3 separate regions of the Homo sapiens genome follow, and all the other regions are linked to region 1. The links come from fine-mapping of genetic effects on gene expression. A gene starts in region 1. Each other region holds a variant in brackets. All regions are shown on one strand. Distances are from middle to middle. Region 1 holds the start of GOSR2 (golgi SNAP receptor complex member 2). Region 2 has its middle 23 kb from the start of MIR5089. Region 3 overlaps WNT9B (Wnt family member 9B).

Region 1 (6,166 bases):
TAAGATTTCCTGGCCAGGCGCAGTGGCTCACGCCTGTAACCCCAGCACTTTGGAGGCCAAAGCGGGTGGATCATCTGAGGTCGGGAGTTCGAGACCAGCCTGACCAACATGGTGAAACCCTGTCTCTACTAAAAATACAAAAATTAGCTGGGCGTGGTGGTGGGTGCCTGTAATCCTAGCTACTCGGGAGGCTGAGGCAGGAGAATTGCTTGAACCCAGGAGGCGGAGGTTGCAGTGAACCAAGATTGCACCATTGCATTCCAGCCTGAGCAACAGAGCGAGACTCCATCTCAAAAAAAAGAAAGAAAGAAAGAAAAAAAAATTCCTATGATCTCGTTCTAACCTTTCTTCGACTACTATTATTGCCCCAAACACCCTGAATCCAGCCAGAGGAGATTCATGTTCTTTCCTTCTGTTTGCCTTTGCTCAAGCTATTCCCTCAGCCTCAAATGCCCTCCTCTTCATCTCTACCAGGCAGACACAATAAACATTTTCAGAGTGGTTAGTATATACAAGACACTGTTAAAATTCTATTGATTCTTGAAGGTCTTATTCATATGCTATTTTGTCCATGAACCGTTCTTGCCCTTCCCACGGAAATGGTACTTTGTATCAATTGTAGCATGTATTCTACTTAATAATGTAGCTTGAGGGTATGATTAGTTCTCCCAACAGACCATGAGAGATATGGGAGGTTTTAGGGCTGTGTCTTGCTTGTGTTCCTATCTCCAGTATCTGTGCATGGTACATTGTAGATGCTCAATTATAGAAAAAGTGAAAAAAATAATTTTAGGAAAAGAATGTACATGGGTGGACAGTCTCTTGGGACACAAAACTGGGTGGGATCCAGGATCCAGGAAAAGAGAAGTATCAACTTGTCCAAGAAAAGAATGTCTCCTGCCTTGGGAGGAATAGTAGATAAGCTTGGAGGATGGAAACGGGATAGCCTATGTGGAGACAGAGAAGTGTCCAAACCCAGTCCCAGCTCAAATGCCACCCCTTCATTAAGTCTCTCCTAAATCTCCTCCTAGAGACGACCCCCAGCTCAGCTCAATCTCTTTGGATTTTCTACCTTCTAGAATGTTTGTCTTGATAAATAAAATTCATAGAAAGCCATTGGTTTGGACTGAGCTCCTGCACTAGGCGCAACAGGCCAAACCAAAATAGAGTCACTCATGCTAAAGTTCCAAGCCACAAAGCCAAAATTAAGCTGCTCATCTGACCTTAGGAGAAATCAGAAGAGAGGGAAAATAGCCATATCCCCATGATAAAGGAAGTCCCTTCTGCCTTAACCAATACAAGTAAAATAACTTTGAAACTTGTTCTTTGTTTCTGCTTTTTTTTTTCAGCCCTTTTCTGTCTATAAAGATAATCTCCTCTGCTCAGCTCATCAGAATACTCATTCTATTTTATAGAATAAGGTGTTGCCTGGTGCTAGAATCGCAAATAGCCAGTTAAGATCTGTAACTGTGTTGTATTAAAGGAGAGAAGGTTAGCACTCCCTTTGACAAGGATGGAAGAGGCCCTTGGGCCTGACAACACGCATACGGTTAAGGCATTACCACCTACTTCGTGGGATCTAACCATCGTTTTTGAAATGGTGCTGGGAAAACTAGCTAGCCATATGTAGAAAGCTGAAACTGGATCCCTTCCTTACACCTTATACAAAAATCAATTCAAGATGGATTAAAGACTTACATGTTAGACCTAAAACCATAAAAACCCTAGAAGAAAACCTAGGCAATACCATTCAGGACATAGGCATGGGCAAGGACTTCATGTCTAAAACACCAAAAGCAATGACAACGAAAGCCAAAATTGACAAATGGGATCTAATTAAACTAAAGAGCTTCTGCACAGCAAAAGAAACTACCATCAGAGTGAACAGGCAACCTACAGAATGGGAGAAAATTTTTGCAATCTACTCATCTGACAAAGAGCTAATATCCAGAATCTACAATGAACTCAAACAAATTTACAAGAAAAAAACAAACAACCCCATCAACAAGTGGGCGAAGGATATGAACAGACACTTCTCAAAAGAAGACATTTATGCAGCCAACAGACACATGAAAAAATGCTCATCATCACTGGCCATCAGAGAAATGCAAATCAAAACCACAATGAGATACCATCTCACACCAGTTAGAATGGCGACCATTAAAAAGTCAGGAAACAACAGCTGCTGGAGAGGATGTGGAGAAATAAGAACACTTTTACACTGTTGGTGGGACTGTTAACTGGTTCAACCATTGTGGAAGACAGTGTGGAGATTTCTCAGGGATCTAGAACTAGAAATACCATTTGACCCAGCCATCCCATTACTGGGTATATACCCAAAGGATTATAAATCATGCTGCTATAAAGACACATTTACATGTATGTTTATTGCAGCACTATTCACAATAGCAAAGACCTGGAACCAACCCAAATGTCCAACAATGACAGACTGGATTAAGAAAATGTGGCATATATACACCATGGAATACTATGCAGCCATAAAAAATGATGAGTTCATGTCCTTTGTAGGGACACGGATGAAGCTGGAAACCAACATTCTCAGCAAACTATCGCAAGGACAAAAAAACAAACATTACATGTTCTCACTCATAGGTGGGAACTGAACGATGAGAACACTTGGACACAGGAAGGGGGACATCACACTTCGGGGCCTGTTGTGGGGTGGGGAGAGGGGGAAGGGATAGCATTAGGAGATATACCTAATGTAAATGACGAGTTAATGGGTGCAGCACACCAACATGGCACATGTATACATATGTAACAACCCTGCACGTTGTGCACATGTACCCTAGAACTTAAAGTATAATAATAAAAAATAATAAAATAAAGAAAAAAAATCTATAACTACATTTCTTGTAATTTTGTCTTTTGAGAGTATACATATCTTATTTCCTTTCCCAGACCAGAACCTCTTTGAGGGCAGGAGGAACCCGGTTTTCCCTACTTTACACATGACACATAATAACCACTCATTCAATGTAGGTTTACTGGATGGATAAATAGGAATGGGGGGTAGATAGGCGGGAGAGTGAGTAGACAAATGCGAAACAGGAAAAGCTTGCGCCAGGAAAAACAGTGAAGAGCGAAATCTCCAGACCCCCGATTAAATGGTTTAAAGTGAAGCCAAGCAAGAACCTCCAGTCCTCTCTGCGGCAGAGAACAGCAGATGATAGCGGCTCGCCTTCAACTTTGCTCTGAGGACCTCTCGTTAGTATCCCGCGATTGTCCTTCCTAACGCCTGACTGAATCCTGAGGCTAGCCTTCAGCGAACATGTACACCGCCTTGCCCTTCACGTGAAGCCGAGCCTGTGACTACACTTATCCTTCCGTCGCCGGCCTCATTTCTCCTTCCCCTTCTCCGATCTCGCAACCACTGCTAGTAAGGCGCGCGTGCGGGCAGCCCTGGCCGGCAGGGGAGGGAGGGTCCTGCGACCGGAAGCCGGAAACCGGAAGGGGGGCTGTGAGGACGTGTTCCGAGGAAGCCAGAGCCGGAGCCGTGGCCTGCGGGGCCGGCGACATGGATCCCCTGTTCCAGCAAACGCACAAGTGAGGGCCGGTCGGGGAGCGGGCAGGGGCTAGACGAGGCGAGGCCAGGTGAGCCTGGCTTCTGGGGCTGAGGCCTCGGACGTCAGCCAGGGTAGAGGCCGAGTTTTTCCGCCAGGGCACTGCTGGGGATGCCTCCGAAGTGCTTAATCCTTGGCGGGACTCCCAGGTCAGCCACAGACAGTGGGTTCAGGCTGGGGCCTGGAGACGTGGGGCAGATGACTCCTGGGGTCTGCAAGTTCGTGACTACCTGCTGGGTAGACTGGGTGACGGGAAACTGGCACCTGCAGGTTATAAAACTTTGTCCAGCACTTGTCAACTCGGTGCTCCTGGTTGGTAGACCTCGAGAGGAGACACGGAGTAGGAGACACGGCCCCTGGCCGTAGGAGTGTACTGTTTAATTGGAGAGTCAGGGCACGTACGGGAAAGTATTTGTATTCTTATTCGATTTATACTAAAGACCACATTTTTATGGTACAAAGAAATTGCTGTCCACGTAGCATTCACTATTATTACTTGTTAATCGTATCTGGTTACAGGTTATCGCTAAGAAAATCAAATTGTAATTTAGTTTCTCATAACTTAAATTCCTTGGTAGTGTCCTTTATTCGCATCGTCCTGCACTTTCGGAATTGCTGAGATACGTAGTTGAGTATTAATGGGGCCATACTTACCCTATTTTTGGGGGCGGGGGGCAGAATTATGATTTTTACCCTGTTTTGGAGGGACGGAATTTTATGATTTTTATTTTTTATTGTAAAATATACACAACATAAGATTTACTGTTTTAACAATTTTTAAGTGTACAATTCAGTGACATTGAGTACATTCACAACTTACATCACTACGATCCATTTCCAGAACTTTTTCATCATCCCAGTGTGCCTGTTAATCAGTAGCACTTCATTTCTTCCTTCCAGAACACCTAGTAACCTCTGTTTTACTTCTCTCTATGAGTTTACCTATTCTAGATACTTAATATAAGTGGAGTCATACAGAATTTGTCCTTTTGTATCTGGCTTATTTCACTTAATGTTTTCAGGGTTCATCTATATTGTAGCCTGTTACCAGAATTTCATTCTGTTTTATGACGGAATAATATTCCGTTTTATGTGTCTACCACATTTTGTTATCCATTCATCTGTTGATGGACACTTGAGTTGTTTCCACCATTGGGCTGTTGAGAATAATACTGCTATGAACTCTGGTGTAGAAGTATCTGTTTTAGTTTCTCTTCTCAATTTTTTGAGGTATATACCTATCCTATTGAGAACTTTCAAACTTATGCTGTAGTTTTGTTGATTAAAACACTTAAAATCACACTCCCAAGGCCTGGAAATGAAATGCCCTGAAGCATGAGGAATAAGAGGGTGATGATCCTCTTTCTCTTTCATTTTCTAAGTTTATGGGTTTCTTTTATTTTGGCGATGAGGTGTTTCATTTGGACAGGCGAAAATACAGAACCTACTTTGTAATGACAGAATTTTCTTTTACACTGGGGAGCCCTATTCTCACATAAACGTTATAGGAAGGGACTTAAAACTAGTCTGTGAGTAATTTAGAGAAAGAATGAAACGAAATTATGTTCATGTTACTAAGAAAGGGCCTATCTTTCACAATAGCAGGGCACAATGGGCATAGTAGTGCCTTGAAGTTAATCTGTTATGTATGGTCTTATCTAGTTAATTTAGTTAAAGGATGTTGCCAAGAAGGCCATGACCCATTTTATATTCAAGAATAACTTTATTTAGAGAGTCTTAGACTACCTGTTTTCAGTGCAGCTAATCACAGAGAAAACTGCATGGCTCAGAAGAGGAATTCTAAATGGTACCCCAAACAAGGTGTGTGGAGTGTAGATGCTCTGTAGGCCTCCAACAATGCACCCTTGGACTCTAGCAGCTTGCCAGTTTTTTCTATTAAGGGCCAGATAGTAAATATTTTAGGCTCTGTGGGCTATACGGTCTCTGTAGTTACTACTCTGCTGTTATATTGGGAAAACAGCCATAGACAATATGTAAACTAATTGATGTACCTGTGTTCCAGTACAATTTTATTTATCAAAACAAGCAGTGGGCCAGCTTTGCCCCACAACTATTAGGCCCTCTGCTACCCCGACACTCATTAATTCATTGAATATTTATTGAGCACCTACTATGTGCTGTGCACCATTCTCAGTGCTGGCAGCACAGCCCTGCCCTCGAGGAGTTTACCTTCTTTTATGCTGCAGTATCTTGTCTATCTTTCCTCTCCAGTGCTGAACCAGGAGTGGGAGTTCTGGTTCTAGACCTCCTTACTTTATTTTTCCTCATCTGTAGAATGATATTATAATTTGGGCTGGTTAAACTGTAAGGCTCCTTTCAGTTCCATGATAACAGAACTGATGACTGAATGACTTTCACAAGAAACACGTGGAGTCCAGTGAGCACCAGCAATGAACTTTCGCAACTGCAGAAATTAGTGATTGTAGCTGAGTTGACACAACAGTAGCTGAACTTATTAATTTTACTGGAACTTTGAACCCAGTTTGTGATTATCTCTTGCCGTGTCACTGAATACATTGAGTACATTGGAATTAGATTGACATATTAAAGTTACTTGAAAA
Region 2 (6,166 bases), 27 kb after region 1:
TATTCCCTTTGTGGAAAAAAAAAAAAGAAATAGCTCAAGCTCAGTATTGCAGCCCTTAAACAGAAAAGTAATTAATAATTATGAGAGGCCAGGCATGGTGGCTCCCACCTTTAATCCCAGCACTTTGGGAGGCCAAAGCAGGTGGATTATCTGAGGCCAGGAGTTCGAGACCAGCCTGGCCAACATGGTGAAACCCCGTCTCTACTAAATATACAAAAACTAGCCAGGCAAGTTGGTGTGCGCCTGTAGTCCCAGCTACTTGGGAGGCTGAGACATGAGAATTGTTTGAACCCAGGAGGCAGAGGTTGCAGTGAGCCGACATTGTGCCACTGCACTCTAGCCTGGGTGACGAAATGAGACTCTGTTTCAATTTTAAAAAAACAAAAATTATGAGATGTCGCGGGGCAGCAGTCAAGTGCCAAGCAAGTGGGGTAGATATCAGAGGGTGGAGAGCCCACCCAGCAGTGAGAGGAGGCTGCAACTGACTGCTGCCCCTGGGGAAGGTGGGACGGGGGCCAGATTCACAGGGGAGCCATGTGAGCTTGGTTCTCAGCAGGCTGGGTTTGGAGTGGATTGTGGAAAGAGTAGGGACGTATTAGGGTGAAGCTGGAGGTGGGTGTGGAGGAAGGCCAGGGGACCCTGACATGAATGTGGATGCAGGAACCCTCAGCTGTCTCTGAAACCAGGAGGGCTGGGGAAGGACCCTGTGCATGTCCTAGATTCTGTGGCCCCAGGAGTTACTGCTCAGGAAGCAGGGCAGCCTCCTCTTTGGTGTATGTGTGCAAGAGAGAGGTCGTGGTGGGCTGTGGGTTGTTAGTCTCTCTCCCAGGAGCACCTGGCAACCTGAACTACCCCTGCTCCCTCCCCACCCTGCCCCAGATCTGGTGAAACCACCAACCAGGCGGAGGCAGGGCAGAGGCTGTCACTGCCACACACCTTCAGAGCTCCCTACAACTTACGTTCATGCTGCTGAGATACTGATGAGAGCTGGAGAAGCTGTCAGGCTGGTGTGGGTGTGGACAAGCCCCACTGTCCTAGGAAGACCTGGACATGATCTTTTTAGGTGCAGTGTAATGTGATGGGGGTGGTGGGATGATGTTTGAGATGGGGATGGCAGACATGGCTTAGAATCCTGACTTTGCTGTTTATTAGCAGCCTGACCTTGGGCTAATCACCCAAACCTCAGCGTCCTGTCTGTATAGTGAGAATAATAATAACTACCTCAAGTGGTAGCAAAAGTGCCTGTATTTGAGAGCTTGTCCGTCACTAGAAATAGTTTTTTTTTCTTTTTGAGATGGAGTTTCACTCTTGTTGCCCAGGCTGGAGTGCAATGGCACAATCTCGGCTCACCGTAACCTCCGCCTCCCGGGTTCAAGCGACTCTCCTGCCTCAGCCTCCTGAGTAGCTGGGATTACAGGCATGTGCCACCACGCCTGGCTAATTTTTCGTGTTTTTACTAGAGACAGAGTTTCACCATGTTGGCCAGGCTGGTCTCGATCTCCTGACCTCAGGTGATCCACCTGCCTTGGCCTTCCCAAAGTGCTGGGATTACAGACGTGAGCCACCGCGCCCAGCCTAGAAGTGATTTTTGTCAGGAGACAGAAGACCTTTAGTGATTGGAGTCAAGCAGGTGGAGTGTGAAGATCAGCTCTGCCCTTTAGCTGTGGAACCTTGAGCAAGCCACCTCACCTCTCCACGCCTCTGTTCTGTCACCTTTTGGAGATGAATAATGCCCATCTCACAGGGCAGCTGTGGCCAGTGCATACTGCCATGCCTGTAAAGTGCCTACTGCACAGCCCAGGACATAGAAAGATGGTAACTGAGGTTTTGTTGTGGTTGTTCACTAGCATTGCATAGGACCCAGGTCTGATCCCTTCATTCAGCTGGTGTGATTGTGAGTCAAGGATCTGATATCCCCAAAGAAAGGACTGCAAGTATTTGCCAGTCAGACTTTATTTGTTACAAGATACGATATTGCACATGTATTCCTGTGTTCTTCATCAGAAGACCTGAATTCAAATCTCCAGTTCATTACCTATTAGGACTTGCTCACTCCCTCTTTCTCTCCCAGCCTCAGTGTCCTCGTAGGGGAAATGGGAATGCTAATAATGGCCTACTTCACAGAACTGTGGTGAAGACAAAGCCAATCAAGCATGTGGATCAGTGAGTATGCGCAGGGCTGCAAGGGCCAGAAATCCCAGGATCTTACTGCTGGGGTTAGATACTGATCTAAGGAGCTTAAGTAGTAAGAACTGTGGATGTGGGGCAGCCTGCAGAGCTGGTTGATTTAGGGCTCGGTGACATCATCAAGGCTGGGCTTGGGACTGCCTGGGTTCCCTGAGAGGCGTGGAACCATGGTGGGAAGATGTAGGAAAGATGAGGATGATGATTGACAGATCAGTCTGGAATTGTTGCCTGCTAAAGTTCATTCATCCATTCTTTCGATAGCTACGAACTGAGCACCCACCAGGTGCCAGTCACGGGACTGGGCCTTGGAGAACAGAC[G/A]TGACCCACCTGCATTGTGATCCACTGCTGTGTAACAAATCACCACAAAACATAGGGGCTGACGGCAATAGCTCTCAGTTGCTACACCTCACAGCCTCTGAGCATAAGAACTGGGGACCAGGCGTGGCTGGGATAGCTGTCTCTGCTCAGCGATGTCTGGGGCCTCAGATGGAAGATTTGAAGGCTGGGAGGAGAATCATCTGAAGGTTCACTGATGTGGCTGGCACACAGTGTCGCTGGGCACACAATGTCGCTGAGCCCTGGACTGGGGCTATCCTCTGGAACACCTGCACACGGCTTCTCCATGGGACCAGGGCTTCCTCAGGGCATGATGACTGAGTTCCAAGAGTGAGTATCCCAAGGGAGAGAGCAGGTGGGATCTGTGTACTTTCTATGACCAAGCCTCGGAAGTCATAGGGCCTCTGTTCTGCCATACTCCTTTGGCCGTGGTGATCACAAGCCATATGGTCACAAGCCCCCAGCTGCCTCTCAGTGGGAAGAATGTGGGTCACATTCTAAGAAGAGCAGGTGGGATGGAATTGACACGGTGGGTGGCCATCTTTGGAGAGTACAATCTGCCACACTCCCCTTGAATGATGCTCACGTCTAGCTGGGAAGACATACATGAGCATGCAGCAATAAAGTGCACAAACCGTCACACAGGTACAAGGTGCTTAGGGCCATGGCAGAAGTAGTATCTACTTACCCTGGAACCCTGGAGGAGGCTTTTGAGCTGAATCTCAGATGAGTCAGACTGGAGCAGGTGGAGCCTGGGCGGACGGTCTCAGCAGAGGGAGTCATCTAGCAAAGGGGTGTGCTCTGGGAAGGGCAGGAGGATTCTGTGGCTGGAGCTCAGGCTTCAGGTTCAGTGTGGAGGAGGGAAGAAAGGCTGCAGAGGTAAGTTGAGGCCAGACGCGGGGTGCCTAAGAGCAGACTCATTAGTCCCTGCCCTCCTCCAGTCCCTGGTCCTCTGCACACAGTAGGCACTTCATAAATATTGATTGAAATTGGAGTGAGCAGTGTGTGTTGAAGAGGAAACCAAATCCCAAAGAGAGGCCGTGGGGCCTCCTGGAGGGAGCATGGGATAAAGACAGGGAGAACCCACTTTCATATCATAGGAACTTGAGATTCTCTTTCTCAGTTGTTGCCTTTCCAGTATTTTTCAATGTCTCTGCAAGAGTTCACGGGGGCTGAGAGCAGCCCCTGAGTCACTTCTCGTTCCTATCCCTCACCCCCAGCTGGATTCTTGGGTCTTCTTCCCTCCATACTGGTCCCCAGAGAGTGTGGACTCTCTGCCTCTTGTAGGTGAGGAGGAGGCGGCTGGCTGAGGAGGTGGCAGAGGCAAGTGAAAGGGCCAGGAGGGTGAGGATGGAGAGAAGGGGAGGGAAAAGAAGGAGATGGAGGGGGAGAAGATGAAGTTGCTAAGTGTATGATCAGTGCCAGAGCCAAAAGCCCATACTACAAATTGCTTTTTCCTTCACACTTGTCCCAGGGAAAGGCCCAATTAAAATAGCACCTATTGGAAATGGAAGGGTAATTGGACCAGGCAGCTTATTAGGCCCATCTCCAAGAGCATTCAGGGGCAGCCATGAGCTTCAGGAATTTCCACCATGTGAACTTAGCGGGGGAGATGACCCCGAGCAGCAAGGGCTGACAGGATGGGGCTGCCCCACCATCCTGCCTGCCCGGGGCCCTGCTCAGTGGCTTGAGAGGGCAGGGACTGGTCTGTGTGGGGGCACTCTTCTGTGGTGGGGTAGTTCAGTGGGCTGAGACATGGGGCTGATGAGATCAAAACTGTCCAGTTCCAAATCCCAGAACAGAGGAAAAGCGGGGCCAGAAGTGGTCTTGGGGACCACCAAGCCAGACTTTCTGGGGGAGAATGACTTGCCAAGGGTGACCCAGTCGGTGATGAGAGATCTGGAGTCAGAGGGGGAAGTCACCGACTCCCAATCCAGTGCTGCTGCCCAGGGACAGTCTCACCATGCCACGCTGTCCTAAACTAGCCTGTGGCCCTCGCCCCAACTACACGCCCATGGCCTGTCACTGTACCATGTTCATGCCAGGCACAGCTAAGTCAGGGTGGCAGGAGCCACGCCAAAGGCTTCTCCAGCTTGAGGGCATCATCTCTCCACACCCCTCAGTTATTGACAGAAACTGGCACACGCACTGCCAGACCACGCTGTCCCTAGGAGGAGGCAGACAGAGGTGGACGCAGCCCACAGGCTTGGCTGGAACGGCGGGTTCCAGAGGTGCCCGCTGGCCGCCCACAGTGAAGTCTGGTAGGGGTGGCACTCTCCCCACAGGTTACCCATTGGACCAGAGCTCATCCACCCAGAGCCCATTTCCATGACAACAGCAAGCTCCTTACCCATCAATTTCATCCTTAAAGATTCCCACCCCAGCTTTCTGAGCCTGGGCTCCTCGCCCAGCTGCCGCGCCAGCCCACGTCTCCAGATCACAGGTTTAGCAGTGACTTGTCAAGCTGCCAGAGAGAGCCTCCTGGGAGGTGCCTTTTAACTGGCGTAGCCCTTGAAAACGACCATATAATCACCTGCTAATTGGATTAGGAACTTGTTCCCAGGGACTTTCTTTTGCCCCCATGTTGAGGCCACCCTACTCCATTCTTCCGGAACTTAGCATTGGAGAGCTTCCCCGTTCCCCTCTGCACAACCTCCCAGGCCAGGGTAATGCTGACAGGGTTGCCCCAAAGTCAGATAGTGACACAAGAGGAAAAGGAAACCTCTAATTTTCTGGGGCCCAGGTACACTCAGAGAGGAAAAATGGCCCAGGGTGGGAGAACACACAGGGCCCTCTCTTCCCCCACTCTGCCCGCCTTTCAGCCTTGCAAGAAAATCTGGCTTTTCCCTCGGGGTGTTTGCCTCGCTGCTTCTCCCCCCCAGACATCACCTCCCTCACAGCCCAGCTCCATGTTCACCCCCACCAGGAAGTCTTCCTTTCTAAACCGTTTTTCTCTGCATCCTCTCAGAGTGGCTATATTTGGTTCCTGCAATATAACTTCGTATATATTGCATCAGGGAGAGGGGGAGATTCCTGAAGCTGGGTTGTTATTTTTTGTGAAGCTATTTTTTTGGTGCATTTTCTTTCTATTCCAGAAAATTCTTATAGTGGGTGGATGTCATTTATCTACCCAGCATCTCGTCTTTGGACTACAAATCCTTATCCCCTTCTGCTGGTGCCATTGTCTCTCCTTCCTGTGGAAAACCTGTGCCACGGGACTCAGCGAGGGCTGCCTCCTCCAGCAGGGTCAGCGCCTGAAGCAGGCCTGGTCCATGCAGGACTGGGTCAGCAGCCCAAAGCAGTCGGTTTGGGGTGACCACATGACTGCGCGGTGGGCCGATCAGAATCTTCCCTGGAATTCCCATAGACACTGCTGGTTTCCTGACCAACATCCATTCCTCCCCTATTCTCACTAGCTACACGCCACTTTTGTTGATCTAGCAAGAAGTCCAGTTGAAGATATTTGTGCCTCTAGACTTTCTTGCAGGTAGGGGTCAGGTCACCCAATTCTGGTCAATAAGATATGGGCAGAAGTTGCTGGGAGAGACTTCTGGGAAAGGGTTTCAAAAGGAACATGGCTCCTTTAGTCCACTCTTAACTGATGGCTGAGATGGAGACATCTTAACCTGAAGGCTTTTATTCC
Region 3 (5,000 bases), 46 kb before region 1:
CCTAGGCCAGCTGCTCTCCACGGTCTGCAGCCAAGCTAATGGCCTCTCTCTGTGTCTCTCTCGGGACATCACCAGCACCCAGATGCACTGGAGGGCAGGCAGGAAGTAGTGAGCTGGTGGGAGGCCAGGTTTGGGCCACACCCAGCAGAGAGGAGTGTCGGTGGTTCTGGAGTGGGTGGGATGGTCAGTCTGAGGCAAGTCAGCCAGGAGACTCAAGGTCACTGTATCATTGGGTCTATTCCACAGTGGGTAGCAGAGAATGACATTTGAGAACCATCATGTGTCATAGGAAGCCCATGGGGCTTATCTCAGGGGCCTCAGAAATGGGCCCATCCAAATGGTCATACACCGACCTGGAGTCAAAATGGCAGGTTTAGCCCCAACTGTGCCTACGCCAGGTGTCTGAGTAGCTTCTCTTTGCATCTCAGTGTTCTTCTCTGAGAGGTGAAGGCCGTAGCCCCTGGCCTGCTGCCCTCTGGGAATCTGGGAACATACTCCATAGTGAATTTGTAAATTCCATTTATTTATTTATTTATAAATTAAAAAAATTTTTTTGAGACAAGGTCTCCCTCTGTCACCCAGGCTGGAGTGCAATGGCGCAATCTCAGCTCACTGCAACCTCCACCTTCCGGGTTCAAGTGATTCTCCTGCCTCAGCCTCCTGAGTAGCTGGGAATATTGGCATGTACCACCATGCCCGGCTAATTTTTGTATTTTTAGTAGAGACGGGGTTTCACCATATTGGCCAGACTGGTCTTGAACTCCTGACCTCAAATGATCCGCCCGCCTTGGCCTCCTAAAGTGCTGGGATTAGGGGCACGAGCCACTGTGCCCAGCCTGGAAGTTCCATTTAAATGGCAACTTGCAGTCAGAATTTAAGGGGCAGTTGACAGGGAGACCCACCCGGAGCTGTGTCCTCAAGCCACATTCTCTTGTCCTGCCCATCACAGCGCTGCCACCACCGCCTCTGGCCCTCAGAGGGCGGCAGGCAACCTCTAAGCTTCCTCCTTTCCTCTCTTCCCCCTTTCCTCCCTCCCTATGCCCCTGGGTGCCCGATCCAGGCTTCAAAGAGACAGCTTTCCTGTACGCGGTGTCCTCTGCCGCCCTCACCCACACCCTGGCCCGGGCCTGCAGCGCTGGGCGCATGGAGCGCTGCACCTGTGATGACTCTCCGGGGCTGGAGAGCCGGCAGGCCTGGCAGTGGGGCGTGTGCGGTGACAACCTCAAGTACAGCACCAAGTTTCTGAGCAACTTCCTGGGGTCCAAGAGAGGAAACAAGGACCTGCGGGCACGGGCAGACGCCCACAATACCCACGTGGGCATCAAGGTGAGCATGTCCCTGGCTGCCCGCAGTGCCTTCCCACCAGGGTACACAGCTGGGGAGCATGGCTTGAAGGAGGCCAGCACCCCACTCCCCAAAATACATGAAGAGCCGTGAACTTCATAAAGGCAGGATGAACTTCACGTCTTCAACCAGCATTCCCTTGGCATCTACTCTGGGCTGTGACTGGGTGCCAGGAACACAGCGGAAGCATGGAAGGGTCATGAGTGTCATTGGTGGAAGCAGTGGTCACCAGTGGGAGCCAGGCTTAGGACTAGGTCTGGTGAAGCAGGGACATGTTTGGAGAGGGGTCTCCATTCCAAGGACCAGGCCTTCCTGGAGGTCCTGGAAGCCCAACATTGTTTGAAAACCTCCATCTAGAGCAACTGCCCACTTCTCCATTTTATGGGTGGGAAGATGGAAGTGGCCCAGAGAAGGGAAGGGGCTGAGGTTACACAGTAGTGGGAGGTCTGGAGGGTGAAAAGTATCTTGGTCTATTGAGGGGAGGAGGCTGGGAGACACCAGTGCTCTAGCTGTTTATGAGATTAAGTTCTGAGTTGTCATCACTGAGTTGTGAACCGGGGCTGCTGTGTTCAATCATTGAGTTGGTGTGAACCGGGGCTGCTGTGTTCAGTCACTGAGTTGGTGTGAACCGGGGCTGCTGTGTTCAGTCACTCAGTTGGTGTGAACTGGGACTGCTGTGTTCAGTCGCGTAAGTTGTCTATTCCACAAGAACTCCAGGCCAAGGGGAGGAGCTGGGGCTGAGACCCTGGGTCTCTTTCCCATTCTCCTGCCTCTGCCCTGCTGGGGTTGGTGCTCTGGGGGCAGGCTCTGGCTGCTGGGCCCAGGCCTCTGACCACGCCTCTGTTCTGCCTCCCCCACAGGCTGTGAAGAGTGGCCTCAGGACCACGTGTAAGTGCCATGGCGTATCAGGCTCCTGTGCCGTGCGCACCTGCTGGAAGCAGCTCTCCCCGTTCCGTGAGACGGGCCAGGTGCTGAAACTGCGCTATGACTCGGCTGTCAAGGTGTCCAGTGCCACCAATGAGGCCTTGGGCCGCCTAGAGCTGTGGGCCCCTGCCAGGCAGGGCAGCCTCACCAAAGGCCTGGCCCCAAGGTCTGGGGACCTGGT[G/C]TACATGGAGGACTCACCCAGCTTCTGCCGGCCCAGCAAGTACTCACCTGGCACAGCAGGTAGGGTGTGCTCCCGGGAGGCCAGCTGCAGCAGCCTGTGCTGCGGGCGGGGCTATGACACCCAGAGCCGCCTGGTGGCCTTCTCCTGCCACTGCCAGGTGCAGTGGTGCTGCTACGTGGAGTGCCAGCAATGTGTGCAGGAGGAGCTTGTGTACACCTGCAAGCACTAGGCCTACTGCCCAGCAAGCCAGTCTGGCACTGCCAGGACCTCCTGTGGCACCCTTCAAGCTGCCCAGCCGGCCCTCTGGGCAGACTGTCATCACATGCATGCATAAACCGGCATGTGTGCCAATGCACACGAGTGTGCCACTCACCACCATTCCTTGGCCAGCCTTTTGCCTCCCTCGATACTCAACAAAGAGAAGCAAAGCCTCCTCCCTTAACCCAAGCATCCCCAACCTTGTTGAGGACTTGGAGAGGAGGGCAGAGTGAGAAAGACATGGAGGGAAATAAGGGAGACCAAGAGCACAGCAGGACTGAAATTTTGGACGGGAGAGAGGGGCTATTCCATCTTGCTTCCTGGGATGAATGGCTTGGAGCCAGCATGTTCTTGGGAGGTGAACTGCTGGGCTAGGAATGCCAAGGCAGGCAGTGCCAGCTGGAAGTGAAGGCGGGAGCCTGGCTGAGATGGGTCAATCGGGTCCTGTGGCCCTGCTCAGGTGCAGTGGGCTCCAGGTGTCACACACCTCCACCACTCCCCTGGTTTTGCTGTGCCAGAGATGGGGAGAAAGCACAGGTGGTAGAAGCCATCCGTTCAGAGAAAGGAGAGCTTTCTGTGCTTGAGTGGACCCGAGTGAGATCTGTGCCCTGGAGCCCTGTGTCCTTGATTTGGCTTTTCAAATATGCCTCCGCTGAGGCCTCATTCTTGTCTCGAGAGCTGGGTTATGCACACTCACCCAGCCGTGCTCAAAACTACCACCAGTGCAGGTAAGACAGGTGGGAGAACTAGCCACCAAGGCGGGACTCAGTGCACCTGAGGTTGAACAGGGAGACAACGGCCCCTCCCTGTGTTCCCTGCTGGCCAAAGGAATCTTCACTCCCAGCGCAGAGGAGGAGGGCAACAGCTTCCTGGTGCCTGGCAGTGACGTGGCGAGCTCAGTTTCTCAGCTGGCTCTTGAGTGAGCTTTGGTGACTTCCTGTGGCTGGGGCCTGCCTGGTCTGTGACACCCCCATACCAGCTGAGTTCACAATACTGAAGAACAGCTGGCTCACGAGCTATGACTTGAAGTTACATTTCTATTCTTGTGGCTGCTCATCTAGTTAAGGCTTTTGCCCTGGCTGGGGTTATAGGTGCTTGAGTCCTTGCTAAGCCTGGCTCCTGGGTAGCCTCCTTCAGTTCCTAATGGCCTCTCACTTGGCCCTCACTTTGGCTCTTACTTGAGGAGGAGACGTGACTTTGATAATTTCCTCAGATCCTGTGGACATTTTCAGCAGCACCTGCCAAGGCCCTCTGTGAAAGGAGGAGAGACTGGTACCTCCACACAGGCACACATGGATGCACAGCCCCTGGACCAGGCTGGGGGTTCCTGTTGCACATGCCTCTCTTGTTCAGGATGAAGACCTTGCAGGGGTCCCCTTGCTGGAGGCATTGTACTTCCCCAGAGTGGGGCCCGATGCCACCCAGGAGGAAGTGACTTCTTTCGGGAAGCCCTTGGCCACTTTGCTGGCCCTGCCACGCCCATCTGTCAGCTTCCTTTCTCCCTAAACCTAGAGTTGCTGACCCTTCACCAACACAGGAAATTTCAGAATCAGCTGAATGCTCAGAAACCTCGCCTGTGCCAGCTCCAGGACAAAGGCCCGCTGACTGTGCCCTGGCCAACTCCCTGAGACCTCCAAGGGCGAGGAGGAGCTGCCCAGTCTCCAGTGGATCAGGGCAGTCTGCTGGATGCTGGAAGGATTTTTGACTGCAGAGGCCCGGCTGAGAAGCCAAACTGACCTGAGCCCCTCTCGTTAAAATGACATTGCTGACCCAAGCACCTGGCCCACACCTTGGCAGCAGGAGAAAAATGGGGAGAGGGCTGGTTTTCTCCTTTCTTCCACTTCCCCACAGCATGGAGATTTTCTCTGCCTTCCCAATCCATCTTGCTCCTCCGAGACCCCAACTCTGCCTCCACCCAGGCTCAGTGCTGGGCGTAAGGCAGCAGGGACCTCACTGGCAGAGCAGGGGGCCTGGGAGCAACGTGGAGGCCAGAGCACCCTGATCCACCAACATGCCACCTGCATTCTGACTTCATGGCTGGCAGTGCCAGGGTCGTGGGAGGGCAAAGGGCAGGCTCTAAGGCATCTAGGCAGTGGCTGGCTGCTAACATGGACACCCCAAGTCAATGGCACAGTGCAGGTTCTGAGGGCTCCTTGGCTTGTGGGGTCTTCTCTGTCTGTCTCTCTCCCTCTCTTCTTCCTTGCTCTCATCCCTTTCTTTTCCAGTTACCCCTGAAGACCCACCTCGGCCCTCTTGGGGCCCCTGGGGACTAGAGTGACCACTGACCCCTCAT

The links. PIP is the estimated chance that this variant, and not a neighbour inherited with it, causes the effect. A credible set is the group of variants that fine-mapping cannot tell apart.
Region 2: its variant is the best candidate, but not a certain one, in a credible set for the expression of GOSR2 in T cells (TOPMed, PIP 0.60).
Region 3: its variant is the best candidate, but not a certain one, in a credible set for the expression of GOSR2 in whole blood (TOPMed, PIP 0.79).

What each region holds. Positions count from the first base shown.
Region 1 is chr17:46,919,655-46,925,820 of GRCh38, forward strand. GOSR2 (golgi SNAP receptor complex member 2) reads left to right here and starts at 3,506. Exons shown (of 6, transcript NM_004287.5): 1 at 3,506-3,567. The coding sequence starts at 3,539. GOSR2-DT (GOSR2 divergent transcript) reads right to left here and starts at 3,217. Exons shown (of 3, transcript NR_186460.1): 1 at 3,157-3,217. It also overlaps a transcript of LRRC37A2 not described here and the pseudogene RNU6ATAC3P. RefSeq lists an enhancer at 3,482-4,206.
Region 2 is chr17:46,946,495-46,952,660 of GRCh38, forward strand. It overlaps a transcript of LRRC37A2 not described here and a transcript of GOSR2 not described here. Among named protein-coding and RNA genes, the nearest start is that of MIR5089, 23 kb to the right of the region's middle. The variant G/A (reference allele first, on the strand shown) is at 2,506.
Region 3 is chr17:46,874,041-46,879,040 of GRCh38, forward strand. It overlaps WNT9B (Wnt family member 9B), which reads left to right. Exons shown (of 4, transcript NM_003396.3): 3 at 1,061-1,326; 4 at 2,205-5,000. The coding sequence ends at 2,678. It also overlaps a transcript of LRRC37A2 not described here. Among named protein-coding and RNA genes, the nearest start is that of WNT9B, 25 kb to the left of the region's middle. RefSeq lists enhancers at 2,379-2,979, 4,289-4,788. The variant G/C (reference allele first, on the strand shown) is at 2,450.